Homo sapiens: one gene and its partners. The protein of the gene in region 1 interacts with the protein of each later gene in a pairwise test. Each region holds a gene or a part of one and is shown in the gene's direction. Other genes may lie near its edges. The genes, in order: SASH1, OAS2, AKAP10, RBM12B and SECISBP2L.

What was found.
Region 2: the proteins of SASH1 (region 1) and OAS2 interact in a two-hybrid assay, tested with the Homo sapiens proteins (one large-scale study listed by BioGRID).
Region 3: the proteins of SASH1 (region 1) and AKAP10 interact in a two-hybrid assay, tested with the Homo sapiens proteins (one large-scale study listed by BioGRID).
Region 4: the proteins of SASH1 (region 1) and RBM12B interact in a two-hybrid assay, tested with the Homo sapiens proteins (one large-scale study listed by BioGRID).
Region 5: the proteins of SASH1 (region 1) and SECISBP2L interact in a two-hybrid assay, tested with the Homo sapiens proteins (one large-scale study listed by BioGRID).

What each region holds. Positions count from the first base shown.
Region 1 is NC_000006.12:148,345,828-148,349,457, forward strand, and holds part of SASH1 (SAM and SH3 domain-containing protein 1), read left to right. Parts: intron 1-3,630. UniProt on the Homo sapiens protein: Is a positive regulator of NF-kappa-B signaling downstream of TLR4 activation. It acts as a scaffold molecule to assemble a molecular complex that includes TRAF6, MAP3K7, CHUK and IKBKB, thereby facilitating NF-kappa-B signaling activation.
Region 2 is NC_000012.12:113,009,453-113,012,287, forward strand, and holds the end of OAS2 (2'-5'-oligoadenylate synthase 2), read left to right. Parts: 3' UTR 1-921; coding exon of another isoform or gene 922-1,032; 3' UTR 1,033-2,271; downstream 2,272-2,835.
Region 3 is NC_000017.11:19,971,227-19,974,856, reverse strand, and holds part of AKAP10 (A-kinase anchor protein 10, mitochondrial isoform 1 precursor), read left to right. Parts: intron 1-3,630. UniProt on the Homo sapiens protein: Differentially targeted protein that binds to type I and II regulatory subunits of protein kinase A and anchors them to the mitochondria or the plasma membrane.
Region 4 is NC_000008.11:93,730,904-93,734,533, reverse strand, and holds part of RBM12B (RNA-binding protein 12B), read left to right. Parts: coding exon 1-1,129; 3' UTR 1,130-3,630.
Region 5 is NC_000015.10:49,043,524-49,047,712, reverse strand, and holds the start of SECISBP2L (selenocysteine insertion sequence-binding protein 2-like), read left to right. Parts: upstream 1-1,266; 5' UTR 1,267-1,413; coding exon 1,414-1,437; intron 1,438-4,189. UniProt on the Homo sapiens protein: Binds SECIS (Sec insertion sequence) elements present on selenocysteine (Sec) protein mRNAs, but does not promote Sec incorporation into selenoproteins in vitro.

The sequences.
Region 1 (3,630 bases):
GGCCCCTCCAGTAGGGATCCTGATGTCATGACGCTCCATAGTTAACTCTCAGATGAATTCAGTAGAAATGTAGTTCAGTACATTTAGAAATCCTGTGTGTTTTAGGTAAAATGTGACTTACAAGATTCTTTTTCCGTACTGAACTTGAAGAGGACAGTAGAGGTAGTTGGGAAATTACACATCTGAACATTATCCTTAACAGATTTCAGACACAGTTCTACCTTACTTTTTCAGATTATTCTAATTGTGGAAATCAAACCACACAGCTTATCAATACTGTATGTGGAACTTTGAAATGACAAAACTCACAGCTTAGTAAGTGAAAACATTTTTAGGTGAATGAGCAATATTGAGCAGTTGTCCCCCAGGGGATTTTGTTGGTTATAACCCAGTGAAAGTATTGCCCCAGAGTCATGGATCTCAGTAAATACAGGATGGTTGTTTGAGTTCATTAGGACACATTTTGCATTTAGATTAATTCAGTCCATGCACAGTTAAGCACCAAATAGTTGCTTTCAGATAATTGTTAACAAAGTGCTCATTTAGAAAAGAAATAATAGTATAATTTACGGCATGAAAATGTTTGAGCAGTACTAGAATAAATAAATGCTAATAAGTGAATATATAAATGGATATAGAATTAAGAGAAAACAAGCTTGCAAAAAAAAAAAAAAATTAACTAGATTGTGAGTGCCTGGAGGGCAGGGTCAGTGTCTTACTCATTTTTCTATCTCCAGTGCTCCTGACTTAACTGGGTGCTGAGAACATGGCTTTGTTGAAAGAAAAAGGGGAAAAGTATGTATTTCTTAAATGCAGGAGTCACATCAAAGCATTGTTCTGTCAAGACACATGTGCCTGCTGTAATGTAATGGGTTACATTTATAAAGATGTGAATACATTCTGCTCTGGCTGAAACTGCATTTTGGGCAGTTTCATCGTGCAAATTAAAATCCCAGTGCTTCCACTGGAAACTAATGGTAAACTGCAACATGTTTATAAGCCCTGAGCTATTAAACCTTGGCGTTCTTGTGAAATGTGCCATTCTGTTCACTAACACCACGACATGTGGTAGGCCAGGGTTTTCAAAGCATGTCACTTCTCCCTGTGACATGTGTAGACTTCTATTGAGAAGTGCAAAACTGAGTTAGAATCCTGTGGAATTTTACCCTTTTTTCTTTACTCCATAGTTGGCAGACACGGCATTCCTTTTTTTAGGTAGGGGAGGGAAGTTGTTTTTAAGAGCGGGAATTGCTAAGGTTGTTGATACAGTTAGGTGTGGTAGATCCTTTTTTCAGAACTGATTTATCCATTTGGTAAATTGTGATGGTTCTTCAGCTTCTGCCTACAGGATTTGAGGACTTCTAAGGCAAAGCCTTAGAAGCCTTTAAATCTACTTGTTAACTGGGAAGGGGGTTAGTAAGTGCCTATTGTTTGCAGGATCCTGCAAGATGCACCTCCCCCAAACCTGAAATTTCCTCTGTTTTTGCTCTGTTTCTACAATTTACACCCATTTCCCAGCATGTTTAAAAAATATCCATTGTATAGAGATACTCCGAACCTTCCCCTACTCTAATTCCTGTGCAAGCTACAGAAAGGCAGGCATCAGTCCACAGAACTGCTATATTCATCCTATCTTACTATTTACTCCATTCCTAAAAAATTAACAAGAAAACCCCTAAAACAAACAAACAAAATGTCTCCCTCTTTTCCTTTGTTGTTTTAGGCCCAGTGTGGGGCGGGGAGATGTTAGTGAGATCCTGAGGGGGCTTTTAAAATGCTAACTCCTTTGAAAGCAGTTAATTTACATGTTCTCTTGGGAGGTGTCTAGAGTTGTGCCTATCAGCTAATGACTTAATTAATTTTACGTCTTGGAATTTGAGAGTCAAGCACATTTCAAATATTCTGACTTCACCTTAATTTTATGATGTTCCTTTTAGCCCACTGAAGAAAGCCTTGTGGCCTCTCTATGTGGAGAAGTTGCAGGGTTATGTACTGGAAGGGATTGAAGCGCCCTTGGAAATGCACCCTCAACTCTCATTTAGAGAGAAGGGTTTGGAGGGCTTCCAGGTGTAAAAGACTTACTCAGGGTAACAGAGAGGAGGCAGAACTCAGGCGTCTGGATGTTCACTTCTTTGGCAAAGACTAAGTCAATGGCTTTCATAATTTTATTTATTTATTTGTTTATTTATTTATTTTTGAGAAGGAGTCTCACTCTGTCTCCCAGGCTGGAGTGCAGTGGTGCAATCTCCGGTCACTGCAACCTCTGCCTCCCGAGTTCAAGCGATTCTCCTGCCTCAGCCTCCCAAGTAGCTGGGATTACAGGCGTCTGCCACCACACCTGGCTAATTTTTGTATTTTTAGTAGAGACAGGGTTTAGGCTGGTCTCAAATCCCTGGCCACAAGTGATCCACCCACCTCGGTCTCCCAAAGTGCTGGGATTACAGGCGTGAGCCACTGCGCCTGGCCGGCTTTGATAATTTTGGTTGGGGTTGCCGAATCTTTTCCTGCTAAAGGAGACCCCTTAAGCTTAAGTGACCTTCTTCCATGATTCCCTTCTCCTGCCTTTCTGCCTTTATTTGCTGTTCTCTACCTTGTCTTTCTTTTGCTCAGCCATACAACCCTTCCCTCTGCCACCTGGCTTCTTACTGAGGTCCTTTGCATGCAGCTCTATGGGGACGGAGTGAGAGGCAGTGCTCCTGTGTAGAGTCCTGGGGCTGTGCTGGATCTTGCGCATACATTTCCTTACTTGATCCTTGTAGGAGGTGTGGTCAGTGAGTATTCTTGCCCTCATTTTACAGTTCAGATGTAAACGTCTGTGTCCTAAGTCATGCAGATAGTAGATGGGGAAGCTGAGAGTTGGATCATGTATTTCCCTGAAACTGACTTCCATTTGCAACTGTGTATAGTTCATTCTTTCACACATCTTCTTCAGACGTTTATTGGCTGCTAATTTTTGTTTGTTTAAGCTATTGAGCTATTAGCGATACTTGCCCTTGAATTCTACAAAAGGTTAGTTTTGCTGCAAAAGCCTCAGCCCCACGGTCGCTGAGTATATACCCAACCTCACAGGGCAGTGGGCAGAGCGCCCCGAAGGCGGTAGGATCCCTTCACTCAGGATCAGCAACCCAGGAGCGTCTGGGCGGCCCCTACCAGACATACCTTTGGATTTGGGCCCTGAGGGATAAGTAGGAGTTCCCAGAGAGGTCTTTTCTAGTGAGAGGGATAAAAAGGAAGGTGCGAGGTGGGCCCTTCCCCACAGAGCAAAGAGGGACAAAGGTGGAAGGGCACAGATCTCCCAGATCTGGGTGCTGATGTTGCTGGATAAGGTTTGTGGGCACCGGTGAAAGAGGCCATTGGGCATGGGACTACTTGCGTCTGTGTTTTGGAAAAGTAACTTTTTTATTTCATTCTTTCTTCTTTCTTTCTTTTTTTTTTTTTTTTTTTTTTTTTTTTTGAGTGAGTCAAACTCTGTTGCCCAGGCTGGAGTTACAGTGGCGCGATCTCGGCTCACTGCAACCCTCAACCTTCCAGGTTCAAGCAATTCTCCTGCCTCAGCCTCCCAAGTGGCTGGGATTACAGGCATCTGCCACCATGCCCGGCTAATTTTTGTATTTTTAGTAGAAATGGGTT
Region 2 (2,835 bases), on another chromosome or scaffold:
GCGCAGCATCCCTAGTCTCTACCCAGTAGATGCCACTAGCCCTCCTCTCCCAGTGACAACCAAAAGTCTTCAGACATTGTCAAACGTTCCCCTGGGTTCACAGATCTTTCTGCCTTTGGCTTTTGGCTCCACCCTCTTTAGCTGTTAATTTGAGTACTTATGGCCCTGAAAGCGGCCACGGTGCCTCCAGATGGCAGGTTTGCAATCCAAGCAGGAAGAAGGAAAAGATACCCAAAGGTCAAGAACACAGTGATTTTATTAGAAGTTTCATCCGCAAATTTTCTTCCATTTCATTGCTCAGAAATGTCATGTGGCTACCTGTAACTTGAAGGTGGCTACAAAGATGACTGTGGACGTGGGTTGCACTGGCCACCCAAGGATGTCTGCCACACCTCTCCAAAGCCCTCCCTACCTACCAAGATATACCTGATATATTCCACCAGGATATCCTCCCTCCAGATATACTTGGTTCTCTCCACCAGGTTCTTTCTTTAAAGCAGGATTTCTCAACTTTGATACTTACTCACATTTGGGGCTAGACAGTTCTTTGTTTGGAGGCTCTCTTGTGCATTGTAGGATGTTGAGCAGCATCTCTGGCCTGTACCCAGTAGATGCCACCCAGTTGTGACAATTAAAAGTGTCTTGAGACTTTATCATGTGTCTTCTGCCCTAGGTGAGAACCCTTGCACTAGAGGAACCCTACACCCCAACCCTGGGGGGAATGTAGGGAAGAGGTGGCCAAGCCAACCGTGGGGTTAGCTCTAATTATTAAGATATGCATTATAAATAAATACCAAAAAATTGTCTCTGGCAATAGTTACCTTCCCAGATACAGGTCCCCCCTTTTTTCCCCTAACTCTTTTAAGCAATGATTGTAACTATTAGGAGACATTGCTCTCCCACGTATGTTTTTCTTTTTAGACAATGCAGACACCAGGAAGTTGTGGAGCTAGGATCCATCCTATTGTCAATGAGATGTTCTCATCCAGAAGCCATAGAATCCTGAATAATAATTCTAAAAGAAACTTCTAGAGATCATCTGGCAATCGCTTTTAAAGACTCGGCTCACCGTGAGAAAGAGTCACTCACATCCATTCTTCCCTTGATGGTCCCTATTCCTCCTTCCCTTGCTTCTTGGACTTCTTGAAATCAATCAAGACTGCAAACCCTTTCATAAAGTCTTGCCTTGCTGAACTCCCTCTCTGCAGGCAGCCTGCCTTTAAAAATAGTTGCTGTCATCCACTTTATGTGCATCTTATTTCTGTCAACTTGTATTTTTTTTCTTGTATTTTTCCAATTAGCTCCTCCTTTTTCCTTCCAGTCTAAAAAAGGAATCCTCTGTGTCTTCAAAGCAAAGCTCTTTACTTTCCCCTTGGTTCTCATAACTCTGTGATCTTGCTCTCGGTGCTTCCAACTCATCCACGTCCTGTCTGTTTCCTCTGTATACAAAACCCTTTCTGCCCCTGCTGACACAGACATCCTCTATGCCAGCAGCCAGCCAACCCTTTCATTAGAACTTCAAGCTCTCCAAAGGCTCAGATTATAACTGTTGTCATATTTATATGAGGCTGTTGTCTTTTCCTTCTGAGCCTGCCTTTCTCCCCCCCACCCAGGAGTATCCTCTTGCCAAATCAAAAGACTTTTTCCTTGGGCTTTAGCCTTAAAGATACTTGAAGGTCTAGGTGCTTTAACCTCACATACCCTCACTTAAACTTTTATCACTGTTGCATATACCAGTTGTGATACAATAAAGAATGTATCTGGATTTTGTGCCTAGTTCCTAGCACACAGCTTCAAAAATTCTAGAGTTTCCTGATAGGAGTGTCTTTTGTATTCATAACAAGCCCTTTTCACCCATGCCTGGGTTTATGCTAACAAGGTTACCCATGGTGGGCCCTTAGTTTCAAGGAAGGAGTTGGCCAAGCCAGAAAGACCAAGCATGTGGTTAAAGCATTGGAATTTTCAGCCCCATCCCACCCCCAATCTCCAAGGAGGTGATGGGGCTGGAAATTGAGTTCAATTTTAACATGGCCAGTGATTTAAGCAATGCTGCCTATGTAAAGAAACCCCAATAAAAACTCTGGACAGTGAGGCTTGGGGAGCTTCCTGATTGGCAGACATTCCAATGTACTAGGAAGGTAGCGCATCTTGATTCCACAGGGACAAAGGCTCCTGAGCTCTGGGCCCTTCCAGTGCTTGCCACCCTACATACTCTTTGTCTGGCTCTTCATTTGTATTCTTTATAATAAAATGGTGATTGTAAGTAGAGCATTTTCCTGAGTTCTATGAGTCATTCTGCAAATTATCAAAACTGAAGGAAAGTCATGGAAACTCCCAAGTTTGTAACCAAGTCGGACAGAGGTGTGGGTAGCCTGGGGACCCCATGTATGGCTGGAGTCTGAAAGAAGGGTGGACTTGGTGAGGACCTTGCTCTTTAAATTGTGGGATCTACACACATTCCAGGTAGTCAGTGCCAGACTTGACTTAAATTGCAGGACAGTCAGCTGGTGTCACAGATTAGGTGTTGGAATGCACCACTACTCTTGTCCAGGATGCAGGCAAAAGAAATATATATGAAGATGTTGAAAAATGGAAGAATACAGGAAACAAGCATGAGAAGAAAAGGCAAAAATAATTTTTAAAAAGTTTTTTAAATGATAAAAAACATTTAATGAAAGAATGACCACTTTAAGTACACATCTACTCAGTCTACAACTAGTTACCAGGGCCTTCTGGATGCCCAAACTTGCACTAGATACATAGGCAGGAAACACGGAAGCAGAAACTGTGAGACGCTGTCCCCATCCTCACAGGGCTTGGCTGGAGGAACTGGAA
Region 3 (3,630 bases), on another chromosome or scaffold:
TACAAAAAGAAAAAATAAATAGCTGGGTGTTGTGAGTTATTCAGGAGGCTGAAGCAGAAAGATCACTTGAGCCCAGGAGTTTGAGGCTGCAGTAAGCTATGATCCCACCACTGCAACACAGTGAGATCTTGTCTCAAAAAAAAAAAAAAATCATTCTAGGTGCTTTTTGGAGGCTGGATGTGGTAAGAGTAGAAGCTGGAGATGGTCCTGTTAGGGATTCGATTCAGACTTTAAATACCATCAATGCATTGAGTCCCAAATTTACATCACTACGTTGGATCCTTGCCCCTGAATCCAGACTGGTATATCCAACTTTAGGTTCAGTTTGTATCTCTACCTGACCAATATAGAGGTGTCCAGTCTTTTGGCTTCCCTAGGCCACATTGGAAGAAGAATTGTCTTGAGCCACACATAGAGTACACTAACGCTAACAATAGCAGATGAGCTAAAAAAAAATCGCAAAACTTATAATGTTTTAAGAAAGTTTACGAATTTGTGTTGGGCACATTCAGAGCCATCCTGGGCCGCGGGATGGACAAGCTTAATCCAGTAGATACCTTCAACTTACAATATCTAAAATTTTATGCCAGATTTAGTCATTTTAAACCTGCTCATCAGTTTTTCTCAAGAAGTAGTATTTTGGCTTTTTTTCTTTTCTTTTTTTTGAGATGGAGTTTCGCTCTTATCGTTCAAGCTGGAGTGCAGTGGCGGATCTTGGCTCACTGCAACCTCCGCCTCCTGGGTTCAAGTGATTCTCCTGCCTCAGCCTCGCAAGTAGCTGGAATTACAGGCATGCGCCACCATGACCAGCTAATTTTTGGAGACAGGGTTTCACCATGTTGGTCAGGCTGGTTTTGTACTCCTGACCTCAGGTGATCTGCCTGCCTCGGCCTCCCAAAGGCTGGGATTACAGGCATGAGCCACCGCTCCCGGCTGCATTTTTGGATTTTTAGTTGCTCAGCCCAAAACTTTAGTACATCTTTGAACCTCTTCTTTCCTCCTACTCTATATCTGATCCATCAGCAAATCTGTTAGGTCTACCTCACACATATCGAAATCCTACCACGTCTCACCATCTGTGACAATTAACACCCTGGTCTAGGCAGTCATCTCTGTTAAGATTGAGTGGTTAAGGATGTCCTCTAAGGAGATGACATTCAAATCTTAGCTTAAATGTCAAGAGGGAGCTGGTTTTATAAAGATTGAGGAGGCAGCATTATTTTGCCATAGGCTTCCATTTGGTTTCCATTCCATTCTTGATACTTATGGTATATATTCAAAACAAATGCACAGAAACAGACCCAGGTATATTGGGAATTTCGGATATAGAGTTCCTAGTTGGGAAAAGATAGACTGATCTGTAAATGATGCTAGTTATCCATCATCTGGCAAAAAATAATTTCCTGCCTCCTCTCATATATCTCAGATCAACAGACTTTTTCTGTTAAGGGCCAAATCATAAATATTTTAGGCTTTCCAGACCATATGGTTTCTGTCACACTCTCCTTTATCCTTGAAGCCATAGACAATATGTAAACAAATGGGCATGGCTGTGCTACGATAAAACTTTACTTACAAAAACTGGTAGTGGGCCAGTTTAGGCATGGCCAGCACTTTGGGAGGCTAAGGCAGATGGATCACTTGGGGTCAGGAGTTTGAGACCAGCCTGGCCAACATGGTGAAACCCTGTCTCTACTAAAAATACAAAAAATAGCTGGGCATGGTGGTGGGTGTCTATAATTCCAGCTACTCTGGAGGCTAAGACACAAGAATCACTTGAACCCAGGAGGCAGAGGTTGCAGTGAGCTGAGATAGCACCACTGCACTCCAGCCAGGGTGACGGAGTCTTAAAGCAAAACAAAACAAAAGGTAGTGGGTTGTATTTGGCCCATGGGCTGTAGTTTGCCAATCCCTGATGCAGAAACAAATTCCAGGTAAATAAGAGCCTGGAATGTTAAAAAAACAAAACTTGAAGTCATGTAGAAGAACAGGTAGGGGGAACAATCCTGATCTCAGGATAGGAAGGGATATTGCTTAAAATAAGACACAGGAAAATATAATCCATGTTGTGTAAATTTGACTACGTTAAAACTTAAAACTTTCGCCAAGCGCGGTGGCTCACGCCTGTAATACCAGTACTTTGGGAGGCCGAGGTGAGCAGATCACCAGGTCAGGAGATTGAGACCATCCTGGCTAACACGGTGAAACCCCGTCTCTACTAAAAATACAAAACATTAGCCGGGCGTGGTGGCGGGCGCCTGTAGTCCCAGCTACTTGGGAGGCTGAGGCAGGAGAATGGCCTGAACCCGGGAGGCGAAGCTTGCAGTGAGCTGAGATCGCGCCACTGCACTCCAGCCTGGGCGACAGAGTGAGATTCCGTCTCAAAAAAACAAAACAAAACAAAGCAAAAAACCTAAAACTTTCATACAATAAAGTATACCTAAGATACTTCTAGAAGAGAAGATTTACATCCAGGACGTGTATGGAATTTCTGCAAGTAATAAGTAAAAGACAAGGGACATGAAGAGGCAGTTCACAAAAGAGGAAGCCAAAATGACCAATAAACATGAAAGGATGTTTAACCTCAAAGGAAACAAGGAAATGAATTAAAAACATCAAATGCCATTTCAAAACTAGTAAGTTGGCAAAATTAAAAATACCAAGGATGAGAATATGAAGCATGGCTATATGAGTGCATGGAATGGTACAGTCACTTTCATTAAAAATGCACATAATTTGTTTTTTATTTATTTTTTTGAGACAGTCTATGTCGCCCAGGCTAGAATGCAGTGGCATGATCTCGGCTCACCACAATCTCTGCCTCCTGGGTTCAAGCAATTCTCCTGCCTCAGCCTCCTGAGTAGCTGGGATTACAGGCACATGCCACAACGCCCGGTTAAGTTTTGTATTTTTAGTAGAGACAGGGTTTTGCCATGTTGGCCAGGCTGGTCTCGAACTCCTGACCTCAGGTGAGCTGCTTCCCAAAGTGCTGGGATTAGAGGCGTGAGCCAATGCTCCTGGCTGAAAAAAATGCACATAATTTGTTACCTAGCAATTCCATGTCTAGAGGCTTATCCTAGAGAAATTCTTGCTTATATGCATAGGAAGACGTGTACTAGAATGTTCACTAGTTGAATGTTTAAGTGAAAATTAGGAAATAAAGTAAATGTTCATTAACAGGAAAATGAGTAAAGGTATATTTATAAAACAATTAAGTAGCTAAAATGAATAAACTAGAGCTGCGTGAATGAACTAGAACTGGTTCAATAGTCATGTCAGATTATTGAATGAATACAGGTCAGATATGTATAGAGTGTCATTTGTGTAATTAATTTTTTTTTTTTTTTTGAGATGGAGTCTCACTCTGTTGCCCAGGCTGGAGTGCAGTGGCGTGATCTCAGCTCACTGCAACCTCCACCTCCTGGGTTAAAGTGATTCTCCTGCCTCAGCCTCCCGAGTAGTTGGGATTACAGGCATGCACCACCATGCCCAGCTCATTTTCCTATTTTTAGTGGCCACAGGGTTTCACCATGTTGGCCAGGCTGGTCTTGAACTCCTGACCTCAAGTGTTCCACCCAACTTGGCCTCCCAAAGTGCTAGGATTACAGGCGTGAGCCACCGTGCTCAGCC
Region 4 (3,630 bases), on another chromosome or scaffold:
CTGGAGGCGGCCACTGGAGGAGGATTTCAGGCGGTCTCCCACGGAGGACTTCAGGCAGCTCCCCGAGGAGGACTTCAGGCAACCCCCTGAGGAGGACTTAAGGTGGCTCCCAGAGGAAGATTTCAGGCGGCCACCTGAGGAGGACTGGAGACGGCCCCCAGAGGAGGACTTTAGGCGGCCTCTTCAGGGAGAATGGAGGCGACCACCCGAGGATGACTTCAGGCGGCCCCCAGAGGAGGATTTCAGGCATTCCCCTGAGGAGGACTTCAGGCAGTCACCCCAGGAGCATTTCCGGAGGCCACCTCAGGAGCATTTCCGTCGGCCACCCCCAGAGCATTTCCGGAGACCACCTCCAGAGCATTTTAGGCGGCCTCCCCCAGAGCACTTCCGGCGGCCACCCCCAGAGCACTTCAGGCGGCCACCCCCAGAGCATTTCAGGCGCCCGCCCCCGGAGCACTTCCGGAGACCGCCCCAGGAGCATTTCAGGCGGCCGCCTCAGGAGCATTTCAGGCGCTCCCGAGAGGAAGATTTCAGGCACCCACCAGATGAAGACTTCAGGGGCCCTCCTGATGAAGACTTTAGGCACCCTCCTGATGAGGACTTCAGGAGCCCCCAGGAGGAAGATTTTAGATGCCCTTCTGATGAGGACTTCAGGCAGCTCCCAGAGGAAGACCTTAGGGAAGCTCCGGAGGAGGACCCTAGACTTCCTGACAATTTTAGACCTCCTGGTGAGGATTTTAGGAGCCCGCCTGATGATTTTAGAAGTCACCGCCCTTTTGTGAATTTTGGTCGCCCAGAAGGTGGCAAGTTTGATTTTGGAAAGCATAATATGGGAAGTTTTCCTGAGGGGAGATTTATGCCTGATCCAAAAATAAATTGTGGTTCAGGTAGAGTAACTCCTATTAAGATAATGAATCTTCCATTTAAAGCTAATGTGAATGAAATTTTAGACTTTTTCCATGGTTACAGAATCATACCTGATTCAGTTTCGATACAGTATAATGAGCAAGGCTTACCTACAGGGGAAGCCATTGTTGCTATGATAAACTATAATGAAGCTATGGCTGCTATTAAAGATCTAAATGATAGGCCAGTTGGGCCCCGAAAAGTTAAGTTAACTTTGCTGTAGAGAGAGAGCATTTCTAAATTCAGTTATCTTCCTTGCAGTATTGATGGAGTAAAATACATTTGTTTTAAAAAAGTGTTTTTTTTTTAAATTATCTAATGAAATATTTTATTTTTGACCTGTGAATAGAACAAATGTAAATAGTAGAATGTGAATCTGGTTTTCTTTTGCTTGCAAATTGCCATTCTTTTTTTTTTTCAAATTTAAAATTACACATGCTGTTTTTTTCTTTGATGGGGAGAAAGAACTCATTCCCTGAGTTCATTCATTTTTGTTGATGTCATCGGTAATCTTCAAGACTTATTGAAGTAGAGTTGTATTTGGGGAAGATACATTTTATATTCACTTTTTTTTTTCTTTCTGTAGTCTACCTCTTTTACTCAAACTGTATAAGGAAATAGTGACTGATTGTTCAGGTTTGGCATTTTCATTGCTACCTGCCTGCAGAATTAATGCCCTCTTCCTTGTCTAAGATATTACTGTGTTAAGTGTCCTGTTAATTATAAATAGTTCAAAATGGACAGACTGTCAACTTGAAATTTACTTATGTAAAAAGCTTAGGTGATTCTTAGGGTTTCCATGTTCATAACTTTACAAAGCTTTATAAAAATAAAATTGCAACTTAATAGAGCTAATTAACTTGTATTTGTATAAAAAGAAAAAAGAATTGCAGCTCGATATTGTGAAGTTTTTCAATAACTTCATTAAACCATATTTATGATGGGAGGGACCAGACATTCTATAGTAATAATGTATAGTGCTGTGTATAATTCCATGGTTTCTTCAACATCTTATCAACCAAGTAAAATTAATACAAGATACGCAAAAGATAGTAAAATAAGAATCTAATTATAGGTGCAAGGGGACTCAGGCTTATGCTGGAAGAATCTGACAAGTGGTATAGTTTGTTTTTCTAGGAAGAATTTACTGATGAGTCACATAACTTGCATGTAATATTAGGTTCTCATTTTTTAGCTTCGAAACTGTGTCCATGCAAAGACTCTATAACTGTTAAGACTTGTGTGGTTGAATTTTGACTTCTTTGATATTCAGCATTTAGTGCATACATTTTGCAACTAGGGAATTTGATTTTCTATACCCACAATAATATTTATGGCTAACATTTATTAGGCACTTACTATGTGCTAGGCACTGTAAGCACTTTACATGCATAATCTCGGTATTCCCTGTGAGTACAGGGTTAATTATTTACCTCTATTTCACAAATGAGATAATGAAGTGGGATGAAGTGCGAGGTTAAGCAACTTGCTTGAAGTCATAGGTAGTAAATCGTGGGGCCAATTTTAACCCAGACAGACCACTGACTCCAGTTCATGCTTTTGCTGCCTCACTTTTTTAAGTGGTATTTTTAATTAGGAAGACCATGCTAAAGATACTTTCAAGGATAAATGATTATTTTCTCACTTCAATTGTTGGTTTAAAATTAGCATAAATAGGTAAAACCAGCATGCTCAAACACTGAGCTCAAACATTAACATTACTAATAAAAAAAAAAAGAGTGACTTTAAAAGTTTCTTTCTATCCAGGGTTTCTCTTGGGATACTCATATGGTATATTACTGGCTTATATTTCAAAATTATTTTATTCAACATGATTGACTTTGGCCTTTTATAATTTACATAAAACATAATTTTCCTCAGTTCTGTAATCCAGATTTTCCCCATTGAGTAAATAATACAATTAAATTTACATATGGTAATTTAGACATTTAATAGGATATTGCATAGGTAGAATACTTTGTCAGTACTTAGTTACTACCTATATGTATTTTTGTGTTACTTTTCAGTGATTTAAAGAAATCTAACAGAAATCTGCTTAAATTTGTTTTAAATAGTGAATATCCTGCTTGCTATGGAATGAATAAACAGGTAAATTTGATATGAAAAAGCACCTCAGTATGATTCTTTAAAGTATAAGCTTGTAAGTAGCTAGGATAATGTTAAATTGATTGTTTGGAATATCCAAACCAAGCACAATGAAGAAAGTAGAAATGATATTTTTAATTGAGCAAAGATTGTATAGATGGTTCATTTGGTCACCCATTTTGAATAATATATGGAAAGTTAAAAAATGCTTCTCAGATACAAAGGAATAAAGCTAAGATGAAGCTTAACGTGAGGGATTACTTACTGTGGAATTGCATTTCAAACTGGGCTGAGGTGGGATGGTGGTGGTAGATAAGAGGCCAGCTAGAGTAAACATAAGCTTTGTAGTTTTATTATTTTAAGAGTCAGAGTCTTGTTCTGCTGGCCAGGCTGGAGTGCAGTGGTCTGATAATGGTTCACTGCAGCTTCTAACTCCTGGGCTCAAGCTGTCTTCCTGCCTCAGCCTCCTGAGAGCTGGGACTACAGGTGTGTGCCACCTTGTCTGGCTAAATTTTTTATTATTTGTAGAGACAGAGTCTCACTGTGTTGCCCAGGCTGTTCTCAAATTTCTGGCCTCAAGCAATCCTCACTCCTTGGTCTCCCAGAATGTGTTGGGAT
Region 5 (4,189 bases), on another chromosome or scaffold:
TAACCTAGACTAACTGAAAAGGCAATTAGTCTTTACTGATATCTCCTGAAGCATGACAAAGCAAATTTCTTAAAATCTCTTTCCCATTCCTAGCTGTGGATCTCCACACCAGTGCCCCAAACAGCAGCCACCTCAACTCTACCTTCACTTAAGTGTAATTTAGCTTATACAGTTGTCCCTAAGTATCCCAGGGGGGATATTGGCTCCAGGATCCCTGCTGATACCAAAATCCATGAGTGCTAAAGATCCTTATATAAAATGGTGTAGTATTTGCATACAATCCATGCATATCCTCCGATATACTTTAAATCATCTCTAGATTACTTATAATACCTAATACAATGTAAATGCTGTATAAGCAGTTGTTAAACTGTATTACTTGTATTTTATTGTTGTACTTGATATTTCTTTTTTCCTCAAAATATTTCTATCCGCAGTTGGTTGAATCTTCACAGAGGGTGTGGGTGTTGGAGGGTGTGTCTGAGGAGATGCCCAGAAGAAATTTGCCATGCTAACGGTAGTGCCCAGTTTCAAGACAGTCTCTGCCCTTAAGGAGCTAAGGATCTGAAGATAAAATAATTACCCGTTGGGTGGTGTTATACAGATCCTGCATAAAATTAGGATTTCTGAGATGGGCGAGGTCAGCCTGGATGTGAGCCTAGAAGTGGGCATGAACCTGGATAATGAATTAACTCTCAATAAATATTTGTGGGGAGCTTCCTAGCGGGCCTCTTCCAGTCATTCTGTGTATGCGTTTTACATATGCATTTTTCTAGGGCAAGACTCCATTATTTTCAGAATATTCTCATTCCTTTATAGTCATGACTCCCTTTATTTGCGTAACATAAGGAAGGAGCAGATGTACGGTGGGCAGATGAAAGCTTTTCCAACATCACTAAGAGGTGGTTTCAGATCCTGAAGAGGTCTTTGAAGTCCCGGGAGACCTGGGTCCCAAGTGGTCTGACACTTCTCGTTTAACAGTCGCAGGGGTGGCGTGTGGTTCGGGGCACCTGCTCCTGGGCGCCTCCACCTGGCCTTAGCCTCCAGGCCAGGCCGGGTTCCTCCTACCCTTGCTGAGGCCATTTGCTGTCACTCCGCCCACTGCCCCTCTCTGCCTCCTCCCCACTCCTTTTCCTTCCGTGCGCCTCCATTTCTAACTACGCCTCCAGCCCATTCGGGCCCTCCTCGGCTTCCGTCCCAGATGATCCCTCCCCGAAGCTGCCACCGCCTCCTCCATCTCCCGGAGCTGGAGCCGCCTCCTCGGCCAGTGGCGTAGCCGAATCGGTGTCGCGGCCAGCCAGATAGGGGCGGAGGTCCGGAACCCAGTCTGGACCCGAGCGGGGGGCCATGGAGAAAGCGGCCCGAGGCGCTGTTTACACCGACTAGCGCGGGCCCGTTGCGGCTGCAGGCACCATGGACCGAGCCCCCACGGAGCAGGTACGCGGGTTTGGGCTGGGCCCGCCGAGCCGGGGGTTGGGGTCGCCGCTTCCTCACAGGCCAGGCCCAGTTCTCCGAACGTGGGGACCGGGGGCCGGTCCTGCGGCCGCAGACCCCCTCACCTGGGAGCCTGGCAGCTCCCAGCTCTCCTTCATTGTTCCAGCTGCTGCCTGGGACTTGGGGGCTTTTCCAACCCTGATTACTTCCCAGGCGGAGGGCTCGCCGTTGCCGCTTCTCCCCTGCTTGGTGAAGGGGTCAGAAGGCTCCAAGTTGTCCCTGCTCTCCTGGGAGGAGGGCTTATAACTTCTAGTAGTCTCCCCGCTTCCCCCATTCCCTTCAGCTCTGGAATGTGTTTTCAAGGTGGAAAGGCGTTTGAAGGCTTCTCACCCAGAAAGACTGTAAGAGAATGTGTGGTAACTACAGATGAAGGGAAGTCACGGGCCTTTTAGGTCTGTGTTCAATGGAGCGAAGCATTGTTTTTGCAGTGGTTTTACGGAGGTGTTTCTTTTAAGAAACGATACTACGATTTCCCCTTGTCCTTTTATCCAGTTATTTTGCAAAGAATTGTAATTAGTGGGTTTTTTTTTAAAGCTAGCTCTATTTTAAGGGTGTAAAGCATAAGCTTATTTTCGAACCCGTTTTCATATTCGCAAAGTAGTCCTATTAGTGTTCTGTTTTATTTTTATTTGCATCAAATTCCTGATTATGCATGCTAGTAGGTGGTAGCAGGCAGGGATGATAACAGTGTTAAAAGTAATCGAAAACAATAGTTTCCCCCCCAGTATTTTCCACTCTTAAGATCTCTGCGAAACGACTTAATTTGAAGTCCAAGTTTATTCACTCTCTATTCCCTTCTTCGAAGGCCTTGCCCATTGATGACTAGATGACGGAAGAAGAGAGGCTAGTAATTTCTGCCTATTAATTTTACAGTTGGATAATTAGCACCTGAATTAATGAGATAAGATTTCCCAAATTCCTGTATGTGTCTATATGTAGTTGAAGCCGGTTTGTATTTTGAAATCGGACTCTTAGCAGGCAAAGCACAGCTTCCTAGTTGTGTATACTTGTTTTTACAGAAGACTTTTTTTTTTAAAAAAAAGCTTTATGTGAATGTAACTCTGAAGACACAAATGAGTTTTATAAAACAATACATGGAATTACCAAAGAGAAATTGATACAGAGTCTCTTGGCAAATACACTTAGGCATTTATGTGACCCAGAAGTATTCTGTATACAGCCTGTATCTAGTTTAATTTAAAAACATTTTTGAAGGTATCTATCATAAATACCTGAGATTTCAAAGCCTGACAAATGAATACGAATTTTCCTTGAATCATTTCCTTGTATGTGTGTTACTAATGAAAGGGTTCAACATTTTGTTCCTTCACTAGGATGCCAGGACTAAAACCAGTAATGCTACCTTATGTATACTTAGAGTTCCTTTCATCCTAGAGGAAATATAATTAACTATTTAGATGGTAATTTTTAGCATAGCTGTTTGTGATTATCCTAGCAGCAAGTGCTGTGAGCAAATTATTTAAACTAGAGAGCCTTTTCCCCTTTCCACATCTTTCCAAAGTCCACGACCTATTAAAACCTTGTAGAAATTTAAGAACTAGGAAAAAAACATGGAAGAAGGTTTTCTGTTGACTTTTTTTTCTTCCAGTACTTCTTGCCTCTTCCCCAGCCTAACCCTAAATGAAAGAATAATTTGAAAATCCTCCACTTCCCTATACACTCAGAAAATATATATAGAAAAGTGATGTCTTCACCTCATTTATGCGATAGGCAGTTAATTCAGGGGTCCATGAATGACCTAGAAGGAGTATGCTTCTTTATATGCCTTTTTCTAGGGCAAGAATCCATTATTTTCATCGTATTCTCAAAGGACGGCTAAGAACCATTAACTTAATAGTAGATTGGGAACTGAGATTTCTCAATTTTGTGGAATTCTTGATTCTTTATGCCATAGAGTCATGTAATGGCTTTTCCAGGATATTTGGATTATACTTTTGTATTTCTACTATTGAAGTGAATTTAGGTAGATTGACGTCATTGAAAAGTATATGTAATATGTGTCAATTTCCATTTTTCCTCACAGAATGTTTTTTTCCCTTTAGACCAGTGTTGACATACTCAGAATTTCTCTAGATGCCTACAGCATTAAAACTTACTCATTATAGTATTGTGGTAGTTAGCAATTCATAGAAGTTTGGTTTTTAAAAAGTAGTACTTAATATAGACTTTCTGCATTTTATCTTAACCTAATTAAATCCTTGTGTACTTTACAAGTGTAACTTTAAAAAAAAAACGCTTTTTTTTTGCCTGAAGGCATTCATGTTCTTGTTCTTGTGAATTACCTTTTTTTAATATATAAAATCTTTTTATAGAAAAGGTAAATTGTATGTGTGCTGATCAAGATTGTAAAAAGTAACTTACTGGGAATACAGTGCTAGATGGATAATCTTAATTGCAATAATGATTATTTGAAAGAATGTTATAACTAGAAGAAAATCTTAGGAGTATCCTCTTTCAGCACTTTTTATAGAGTATTCTCTGTATTTAATCAAAATAGCTAGCTTAATTTTAACTGCCAGAGTTAAATATTCTAAGAATATGTGTTGCTTGGTATATAATGCATTTTTTCCCCTGAAAAAAAAAAAAAAACTTGCATTTTGAGATGTGAAGGATAAATCATGGAGTTCATTTTGTTTATAAAGGCTTACTGGTTCTATTTTTAGGAAATTTATTG